Linked DNA regions of Homo sapiens. The protein of the gene in region 2 interacts with the protein of the main gene of each other region in a pairwise test. Each region holds a gene or a part of one and is shown on either strand. Other genes may lie near its edges.

Region 1 (4,717 bases), on a different chromosome or scaffold from region 2:
AATCCTACCTGTCCTGCACCCCGTCCTTCACCCCGTCCTCCCAGGAGTCAGCCTCCACCTGACATATCCGGGGAAAGCAAACCACCAGCCTCGTGTACAAGGCCGACCAACTCCAGGGCTGGATGCACTCACATTTCACCAACTGTCTCTGGGGCCCCCTCCCAACGGGAGACACTGAACCCGTCAGCAAAGTCAAGGCTCTGGGAGGCCCACTAAGCCACACTCCTCCTGGTGGACACTCAGTCCCTTCCGTTTTGTGCTGTCGCTAAAAACCTCCCTCACTCTTGGGACTACTTCCTGCCCTGCACTCTCTAGGATTACTGTCTTGGGAAAGAGAAGGGCCTCAATCCGACACCTACAAAGAAATGGGGAGACAGAGGAGGAGCGGCTCACCCTGCCCAAGGAGTCTGATGGATGGAGAAGGGGAAGGTGGCTGGGGGAGGGACAGCGTGTACACAGTGCCTCAGGGAGGGGAGCCTGTTGTGGCTTCAGCACAGAGGGTGGCTATGGGGTGTGGAGGCAGAGGGGAGTGGAGGGCCACGGACAGGCAGGCAGAGCACACTGTCCTGGGCCCTGGGTGCCAGGCCAGGACTCTAACCTTTATCAAGGACCAAGGGAGCCAGCCAGGTCTCCAAGCCAGGAGAGGCCTGGTCACCTGTGAGTTTTTCATCCTCAATTTGAATCCTCCTAATAGCTTCTCCACATTTGGCCAGAGAGACTTCAACGTGAACAGATGCTTGAGCCCTCATCACCTCCTCTGTGCTTCTGGACAAAGCCCCAAACCTTACTGGGGCCTCCAAGGCCCCGTCTGGCCCCACTGACCTCTCCCACCCCTTGCCCCAACCCTCCAGCCACTTCAATCCTTGAGCCTGCTGCTGACTTCAGGGCCTTTGCACCTGAAGCTCCTTTTCTTCCTTCTTCACCTGGTCAGTGCCTACTCAGCCCCAGATCTCACCTTCACTGTCACCTGCTAGGGAGCCACTCTCACCAGCCAACCCCACCCATCCCTGGTGGCCCTTCTGGAAGCTCGGTCGCAGGTACCTGTCCCCTGCAGGGAGCACTGGCTTCCCCATGACTATGTGTCCAGTGTCCGTCCTCCAGCCAAAGACGGGCTCCTGAGGCCAGGCCTGGGCGCCCCAGCAAGGAAGGAGCCCGGGCCAGGGCCCTTCCCACCCTTCAGATCCAGTGCCTGCCCCCAGACCTGGCAAGGTAAGGGCCTCAGCTACGGCCCAGTAAGGGGGCTCCAGGGGTACCTGAGGGTGCTGGGCTGGGGAGGCTATAGGGCTTTGGCCTTGATTGGGGAGGGTCTCCAACACCCCACATACCCACTGGTCTAGGCTGCTTCTCACCCTCTGTTCTGCAGGAAAGCTTGTATTTCTTTTTTTTTGACTGGCTCTCATTCTATTGCCCAGGCTGGAGTACAGTAGCATGATCTTGGCTTACTGCAACCTCTGCCTCCCAGCTTCAAGTGATTCTCCTGCCTCAGCCTCCCAAGTAGCTGGGATTACAGGTGCGCACCACCATGCCCAGCTAATTTTTTTGTATTTTTAGTAGAGACGGGGTTTCTCCATGTCGGCCAGGCTGGTCTCTAACTCCTGACCTCAGGTGATCCACCCGCCTTGGCCTCCCAAAGTGGCTTACAGGTGTGAGCCACTGTGCCTGGCTGAAAGCTTGTATTTCTAATTTTCATAAAAACGTCCCTGCTGGGGCCGTCATGCTGCCTCTTACTTCCCACTCGGCATGTGTGTTTCAGGTTCCGGGCTGCTGCCCCTAACGCCTGCATCTTCTCCTGTGAACCTCCACCTCGAACCCCGCAGCAGACCCCAGAAAGCCCATCACCCCAGCTCCCAGACAACACCACACGAGCCCCTCACATGTTTCCCTAGCAGGCCTGAGGGACATTTCTTAGGGAAACGGGTAAGAACAGGGCCTGCGTGTCACAGAGGCCCGGCCGCTGACCACGGTGGAGTGGCTGCCTCACCCCGCACACTCGGGACCCAACTCCCAGGGATCTCCCAGCGTGAGAGCAGGGACGGGACTGCGCCGTCACACCTCGCAGCAGGGGCGTCTGTACCGCCAGCCGGCCTTCCTGGAGCCTCTGCTGCAGGTACCTGTCCTTGTTTGAAGGCACTTGCCCTGAACCCTGGCCCCTGTTCTCTGCCAAGACCCCCTTCTTTGGCTTTTGTTGGTAAAGATGACGTGCTATTTACTCAGAAACCAGGCACAAGGGAGCACTGGGTCTTTGGAGTCCGGGCTGCGGGGGGACATGGACTCGAGAGGGGCTCTAGAAGCCACTGCCCCTGCAAGCCCCTGAGGAAGTGGGGCAGCCATGACCGAGGCTGGGCTGCACAGGGCAGGAGCGGGAGACTTCCCTGTCCAGGGGGTCCACATGGGCTGTTGCCATGGCCACCCACCCACACCCCCTCCACAGTCATGACCCAGAGGCTTCACCTTGATGACCAGGTCCACGAAGCCCTTGTCATCATCGCTGGAGATGGGTGTATAGGGCCGGACGACCAGGTTTCCATCAATTCGAGCCGAGAGGTAGATGTGCTGGCCTGCAGGACAGAACGGGGTCACTCTGGGCCAGAGATCATCCTGCGGGTGACCCCTGGGTCTTGTCAACCCACTCCCCTGCACCCCACCCGGCATTCAAAGCCTGGCCTGGCGTCAGCTCCCACGGCCCCCTCCCACCCCTCCCGGGGATTCCCCTCACGTCCCAGCTTCCTGCCTCCATGCCTTCACTCCTGCTGGTGCCACTGCCAGGGACTCTGGGCCTTCCCACTCTCATTCCAACAGACTCGCCCTCAAAGGCCCAGGGCAGCTGTCACCTCCTCCTGAAGGCTTCCCTGCTCTCCCTGGTGGAAATGTAAAGCTTCCATCTCTCTGATCTAGTGCCCCAGCAGCCTGCCGGGCTCCGAATGGGCCCAGCAGGGGCGTGACTCACCGACAGGGAGGCCCAGGATGTGCTGGGGTGACGGCAGGGCAAAGCGGAAGCGCCGGGTGTCATGGCTGATGATCTGGAGAGAGGCCCAAAGCTGCTGAACGGTCCCCAGGGCAGAGGCCTCCCAGGGCGGCTCCCAGGCCTCGGAGCCCCCATCCCATTCCTCCTTTGTGTCCCCACCCTTCCCCAGTGCCTGCTTGTCCTTGTAAGACGTGACGCCGACGCCAAGCACAGATGCACACACATGCACGCTGCGTGTGAGGTGCTGAGGCCAGGCGCACGCTGGGTGTGTCTGTCCTGCTGGCCTAGAGGGGCCACAAACAAGGTGGCCAGAACAGGGAATGAACCCAGGGTCCCAAAGGGAGGATGCCAGACAGGACGGGGAGGGAGGAATCCATCTCTGCCATCAGCTCAAGCAGTGGCCTGAAGGGGCAGGAAGAACTTGAGGGCTGGATGGGCAAACTGGGGCAGAGCTAGACAAGGCTGCACGTGCCCAGGCCTGCATCCCAAGAGAGGGGCTGCAGAAGCCACTGCACCTGAGAGCCCCTTGGGAAATGGGGCAGCCAGGACTGAGGTGGGCTTCACAGGGCAGAAAGTGGGAGCCTTCCCTGCCCAGGAACTCCAAGAGCCCAAAGCCAGGCTTCCACCCTGCACAGGGTGGGCACCCAGGGCATGGTCAGTGGCTGGGACAGTGGCAGAGGAGGAGGGGGGCTGGCTAAGAGCCAGATTGGGCCAGGGAAGGAGCTGAGACTAAAACCCCTGAGGTCTTGTTAAGTGGGTCTTACGCTCAGGCCAGGGACGATCACATAATCAGTTCCAGTCGGAGCTGGAACCAAACCCAGCGTCCTGAGGGTGCACTCCCTGTGGGGTCCCCAGTACCCAGCATGGCCAGGAGAGGGAGTGTGAAGAAGCCATGCGGAAGGTCGGCGCTGCAGAGGCGCTTACATCCAAACGTGGCAAAGTCCACATGTGGATGGTGTCATCACTTAGAGGGGGACAACAGACCTCTCCAACAGGGCAGGACATCACAGATGCCCATCTCGGCTCAGTACGAGAACTCTCCGACCTGAGCAGTGTTCCAGCACAGAGCAGCTGCCTCAAGGAGAGACCCGTCCCTACACGTGTGAGCAGAGGCAAATCGCAGGAAAGACGGTGCAAACGCCACTCAGGATCAGGTGTGCAGGGGGCCCACCAACCTCTCCCAGGCAGCCCAGGCCTCAAAGCTGCCTCTACCAGAAGCTTCTGCATTAGGGGCAAACAGAGCCCCAAGGCCTTCTGGAAGTGGATTCCAGGACTATCAACTGGTCCTAAGGGTCAAGGTCAGACACCCATGTACCAGAAAATATTTGGAGGAAGAATAGAAATGAGATGGCCAGGCGTGGTGGCTCATGCCTGTAATCCCAGCACTTTGGGAGGCCGAGGTGGGCGAATCATCTGAGGTCGGAAGTTCGAGACCAGTCTGAACAACATGGAGAAATCCCGTCTCTACTAAAACTACAATGTTAGCCAGGCGTGGTGGCGCATGCCTGTAATCCCAGCTACTCAGGAGGCTGAGGCAGGAGAATCACTTGAACCTGGGAGGCAAGGTTGCAGTGAGCTGAGATCGCACCATTGCACTCCAGCCTGGGCAACAAGAGTGAAACTCTGTCTCAAAAAAAAGAATAGAAATGAGGACAAGAGATGAACAATTATGGTGCTGGCCAACCTCTAGTAGGGCAGCAGGGTGGGGCAAAGCACAGAGCACCCAGAGCAGGCCCGCTGCGGACCCCGCAA
Region 2 (5,061 bases):
GAGTCTATTTCCTTCCCCTTGAACCAGGCCAGTCCTGTGGGCTACTTTGACCAATAGAATTTGGCAGAATTGACGTTCTTAGACTTCCACATCCTGCCCTTAGAGGCCTTTTAGCTTCGGTTTTTGTTGCTCTTGAAGGCCACTATCATGTAAAGAGGTCAAGGATAGACTCCTGGAGAAGCTACGTGAAGAGAGACCCTGAAGTGTCAGCGGCCATTGCAGACCTTCCAGCCCTAGCAAAACTCCCAGCTCACGGGGCAGAGACAATGCCATCCCTGCAGAGCTCTGTCCAAATGCAGAAACGTGAGCCGAGAAATTGCTGTTTCAAAGTTCTAAGTTTGAGGATGGCTTGTTATGTGGCCACAGGTAACAAAAACAAGGTTTGGTTTGGTTTTGTTTGTCTTGTCTTTTCTGAGTTGGGGTGCTTCTCATATCTTCTGGACATGAGCCCTTGGTGTATTCCAATGACTCTGTACCAGCCCTGCCATCTCCTTGTTCCTATGCTGCCATGAGCGTACCGTAATGGTGCTGCCGCCTTCTGCCTGCAGATCTTTTTCACTAAGAATGGCAAAGCCCTTCAGGCTTCAAGGACTGAGTAACATCCGGTCAGAGCAAGCTAGAATGCCTTCTCAGGAAAGCTGCAGAGACACCTGGTAACCAGCCAGAAGAGGCAGACTCTAGATTTCCAAATGCCACAAAGTTCCAGCTCAGAGCACCCAACTAAGTGAAGCAATCTGCTCATCTGAAACTCTGCACTTGCAGTCCCCTTGCCTGGAATGTTCTCCCCAGAGACTCCCCATCGCTCCCACCTTCTCCCTTCCTCCCACATTGCCATGAGCATCTGGCTGACTCCTTCAGGTCTCAATCTAGTGCCACCTGCTCAGAGAAGTCCTCTCCGTCCACCCTGGCTAAAGTAGCCTCTGAGTCAGTTTAACATCTTGGTCATTTTCTTCTTAGCCGGCATCATGACACATGACTTGTTTATGTTTCTATTGCCTGTCTCCCCTGCCAGCTTGTAAGTTCCATGTGGGCGGGACAATGAACCAGAACATGACAGGTTCCCAATAAATGTTTATTGAATGAATAAATGGAAGAAGGAGTGAACAAAGTAATGAACAAAACAGACCCCAGATCAGAGGAAGAGATGGCTTTCTTGTTAATTCTGGAGCAGATTCAAGCAGCAAATATTTACTGAACACTTGCTATGTGCTGGAAATTGTTCTAGGAACTGGAGTTACAGCAGTAAAAAAAATAACATTTGTATTTTCATAAATTTATATTCTAGAGGGAGAAGAAGATAATAAGAAAATAAGTTATACAGTGTCCTATTAAGGAGAAATTATAGCAGAGTAAGGGGGTGGAGAGTAATGAGGGTGACATTTTAGACAGGAGGTCAGGGAAGCCTCTCAGGGAAGGTGACACCTGAGCAGGGACTTGAATAAAGTGAGTCGGGGAACCAGACATATACTTGGGAGAGAGTGTTCTAGGCAGAGGGAACAGCACATGCGAAGGCCCTGAGGCAGAGTATGTAGCTGGAGAGGGGAGGGAAGAGCAGTAGAAAATCAGAGAGGTCAACTCTGTGGAATCCCCAGCCCAGGAATTTGGGGCTTTGAAGCTCTCTTATGTTCAGAAAGGCAAATCATCTCCAGGTCCAAAGTTGATTAACATTCTTTATTTCACAGTATTTTTGATCAGAAGTCTTAGAAATCATGATTCATCTGGTTACAAATCCCATGAGTTTCTCTTTGAATGAACCTCTTGCTTCCAGTCCCATACAACGCATCTCCCACCAGCCCCAGTGGGTTGTAACTGTGATTCAACACTGAGTGCTCACTTGGAAAGGAGGTGGAGCTCAACTTCCAACTCAGAGGGCCTCTCCCACTGCTCTCAGGGAAATGCCCATGATTCACTTATGCTGTATCAACAACAAGTGCAGCTGGGCGCTGCCTTCCCAGCTGGCCAAGCGCTCCTAGGGGAATCTCCACCCTCAGAGGCTTAGGAAAGGGAAGTGTGACGAGTCAGGGCCCCTGGGCTGGTGTCTTTTCCAATACTGGGCTAATGCTGGGCCATTCCATTCAGCAGACACTTCCTGAGGGCCTGAGCTCTTCACTGGGATGCCAGAATGCTTCTGCTTGGAACAAAGAGGGATTAACCCTTGAAGGCAGACACCACTTCCAGCCTCGGGCTCACGGGGACGTCTCAGTTTTACCCATATGCAGAAGGGGACAATCTTTTGCTTGCCTGAGACATTTTACCCTGGCCTTTTACAAGGCCCCAATTTATCTTTTGACTTTTCTCTCACCCCTGACAAATGGGGCCTTTGATAATTAAACATGCTTACCACTTAAGGTGGGGCATGGAGAGATCAAGGCCACCTGCTGGGACAAGCAGCAACTGACCGCCTTGCAGCCACAGAGGCCTATGGGGGCCACATGTAGGAGAGTCCTGGCTGGAGGGGTCATGAGTCACCCCATGGGAGGGCAGGACCCAGGCCTGGCCTGACCCCAGAATTATGGCCAAACTGACCCAGATGAAACAGGAGAATCCTAAATCTCTTGGGTCGAGATGTCAGCTGCGGTTTCTAGAACTTCCCCTGGTATGCTCAGGAGCCCAGAGAAACAGCAAAGAGGCTTTGCACAGTCTCATGTCCTTGGAAAGCTATCTGTCCCTTTCCCTGTCTCCAAGGATTAAAAAAGAATCTCTGACTGCTGGTTATCGGCAGGGGTAAAACAACTGGTGCAGAATGGGCACCAACTAAGCAAAATCACACACTGGTTGTGAACAGCTGGAACAACTGGGTTGGAACATTGCAGCCCAGGAAAGTGATCTTTAAAGACAAGGTGGTCTCTTCAGTGTAATCGAAAGTAATCACTGGGGGATAATGTTAGCTGTGCCCATGGGAATGAATGGCCTCCTATCCCAACTGTACGAGACAAACACCATGCCAGATTTGCTCACTGTTGATGACACTGGGCTGTCTTGTATCCTAATGATAAAACAGCTAACTGATAAAGGAGCTTATTTCTCAGGCAGCAGATCTGAGAGATACCTGGGCTTTGAACTGCATGAAAGAGAGAGAAAGTATCCTAGATAATGGCTCATGGACTTGAGTGGGCCACTGGAGGTCACCCTTGCTTGCTGCATATTGGATTACAGAAAAGAATTATTTGATTGTTTTGTAGTGTCCTAGCAGCAGGTGATGGTGACAGCCCTTTGAGAGGGTTCAGCCTCAAGGGAGTCCTCCAGGGGGACTCAGAGGGTCCGAAATGTGTCATTGGCCAAGGTGGGTGGCAATGCTGTGACATTGACCGAGTACATATCAGCCCAGTCCGGGAAGGTGCCCAGCTGGAAGATGGTCTGTGCCCAGGTATTCATAGCCAAACTGAGCAGCAGGACACCCATCAGGTTCATCAGGAGGCCTGTCCGCACCTGAAATAGAGCCCAGACAGAGGGAGGGGTCAGCACCTGACCCACCATACAGATGGAAACATTCAGACTCAGAGACAGGAAGTCACTCACCCAAGATCGCACAGCCAGGAAGTGATGGAGCCAGGACACAGACCCAGGTCGGTAAATGCCTGGGACCCTTCAATCTTTACACTACCCTAGGCTGTCACTCAAAGAGCTGCAAGTGTCCCCATTCATTGATGGCCTCTAGGTTCCAGGCACTGTGTGCTACGCAGTTGTCACAGGGTTATGCTGTTTAACCCAGAAAGCAACCTTACAAAGGTCATTCTTATTAATCCCCATTTTATAGAAGAGAAAAATGAGACCTAGAGAAGTTGACTTGTCCAAGGTCACCTAACTTGAAAATAATCTTGTCTGATCACTAAACACCCCCATCCCACACACATATACACACACGCATGCACACACACACGCATGCATGTAGGAACACACATATGTACACATAGGTACACACACACACTTCAGGTCCAGTCCAGTCAGGTAGTCCTAGTCAAGACTACCCTTGTCCATTGGGAAGCATTTTTCTTCTGTCGGTGGAGAATGTGCCCATCTGCTCCCTACCCTGGCTGGCCTCTTGGACCATTCAGTCCACCTTGGGCTGAAAATCCTTGTTTTCCCACCTGGGTCTTCTGGCTGCCCCGCCTTCACATAGCCCAGGCTGAATCACATGGTGAGACAGTTACTTCCTTTCTAATTCTCTTTCTGTCTATTCCTCCCAGAGAAAGTCTCTCTTAGGGGTGTGATAGGAAAATAAATCTTGGGGCCCCCAAATTACTAAGCTAAAGAGAAAAGTCAAACTGGGAACTACTTAGGGCCAACCTGTCTCCCATTCTATTCAGTCATCCCTCTGCTCACTGAGTTGAATGCATATCTGATTGCCTTCTTTGGAAAGGCTCATCAGAGACTCAAAATAATGCAACCATTTGTCTCTTATATACCTATGACCTGGTAGCCCCCTGCCCTCTTTGAGTTGTCCCGCCTTTCCGGACCAAACCAATGTTCATCTTACATATGTTGATTGATGTCTCATGCCTCCCTAAAATGTATAAAATCAAGCTGTGCTCCACCCACCTTGGGTGCATGTCGTCAGGACCTCCTGAAGCTGTGTCACAGGCGTATGTCCTTAACTTAGGCAAAATAAACTTCCTAAATTTACTGAGACCTGTCTCAGATTTTTGGGGTTCACAGGGGCCACCATGGCTTCAGCACTTCTCTGCTCCTGTCAGTTGCCCTTTTAACAAGGAGAGGCCCAGAACCTTCTCCAGGCAGCTGCTATCAGGGAGAGCTTAATTCTTTTGTTTTTGCCGCTTTGCATTTATTTTTAGGTTTACTGGCCATGGCATATATTAATAATACCGGTTTTCCATTGATGGATGCACTGGAAACATTTCTTCTGGAATATTCTTATTCAAGTTTTTTTTTGTTTTTTTTTTTTAATGTCAAGCTGATTTAGTAAAGGTGTTAAATAAATATTACCACGGACGGGTGGGGGACATACTGCGTGTGCTGTCCTGCCTCTCTTCTAAGGGCACAGAGGTGGAAGCCCTGGCACCTTCGGAGGATTAGAGGGAGTCGGGCCGACATGTTGGGGAA

Evidence for each region.
Region 1: the proteins of SLC13A3 (region 2) and CYB5R3 interact in binary tests that used the Homo sapiens proteins (3 or more experiments, as listed by UniProt).

What each region holds. Positions count from the first base shown.
Region 1 is NC_000022.11:42,628,431-42,633,147, forward strand, and holds part of CYB5R3 (NADH-cytochrome b5 reductase 3), read right to left. Parts: intron 3,021-4,717; coding exon 2,948-3,020; intron 2,559-2,947; coding exon 2,452-2,558; intron 1-2,451. UniProt on the Homo sapiens protein: Catalyzes the reduction of two molecules of cytochrome b5 using NADH as the electron donor.
Region 2 is NC_000020.11:46,556,770-46,561,830, forward strand, and holds the end of SLC13A3 (Na(+)/dicarboxylate cotransporter 3), read right to left. Parts: intron 3,430-5,061; coding exon 3,253-3,429; 3' UTR 1,059-3,252; downstream 1-1,058. UniProt on the Homo sapiens protein: High-affinity sodium-dicarboxylate cotransporter that accepts a range of substrates with 4-6 carbon atoms, such as the citric acid cycle intermediates succinate and alpha-ketoglutarate (2-oxoglutarate), as well as other compounds including N-acetyl-L-aspartate.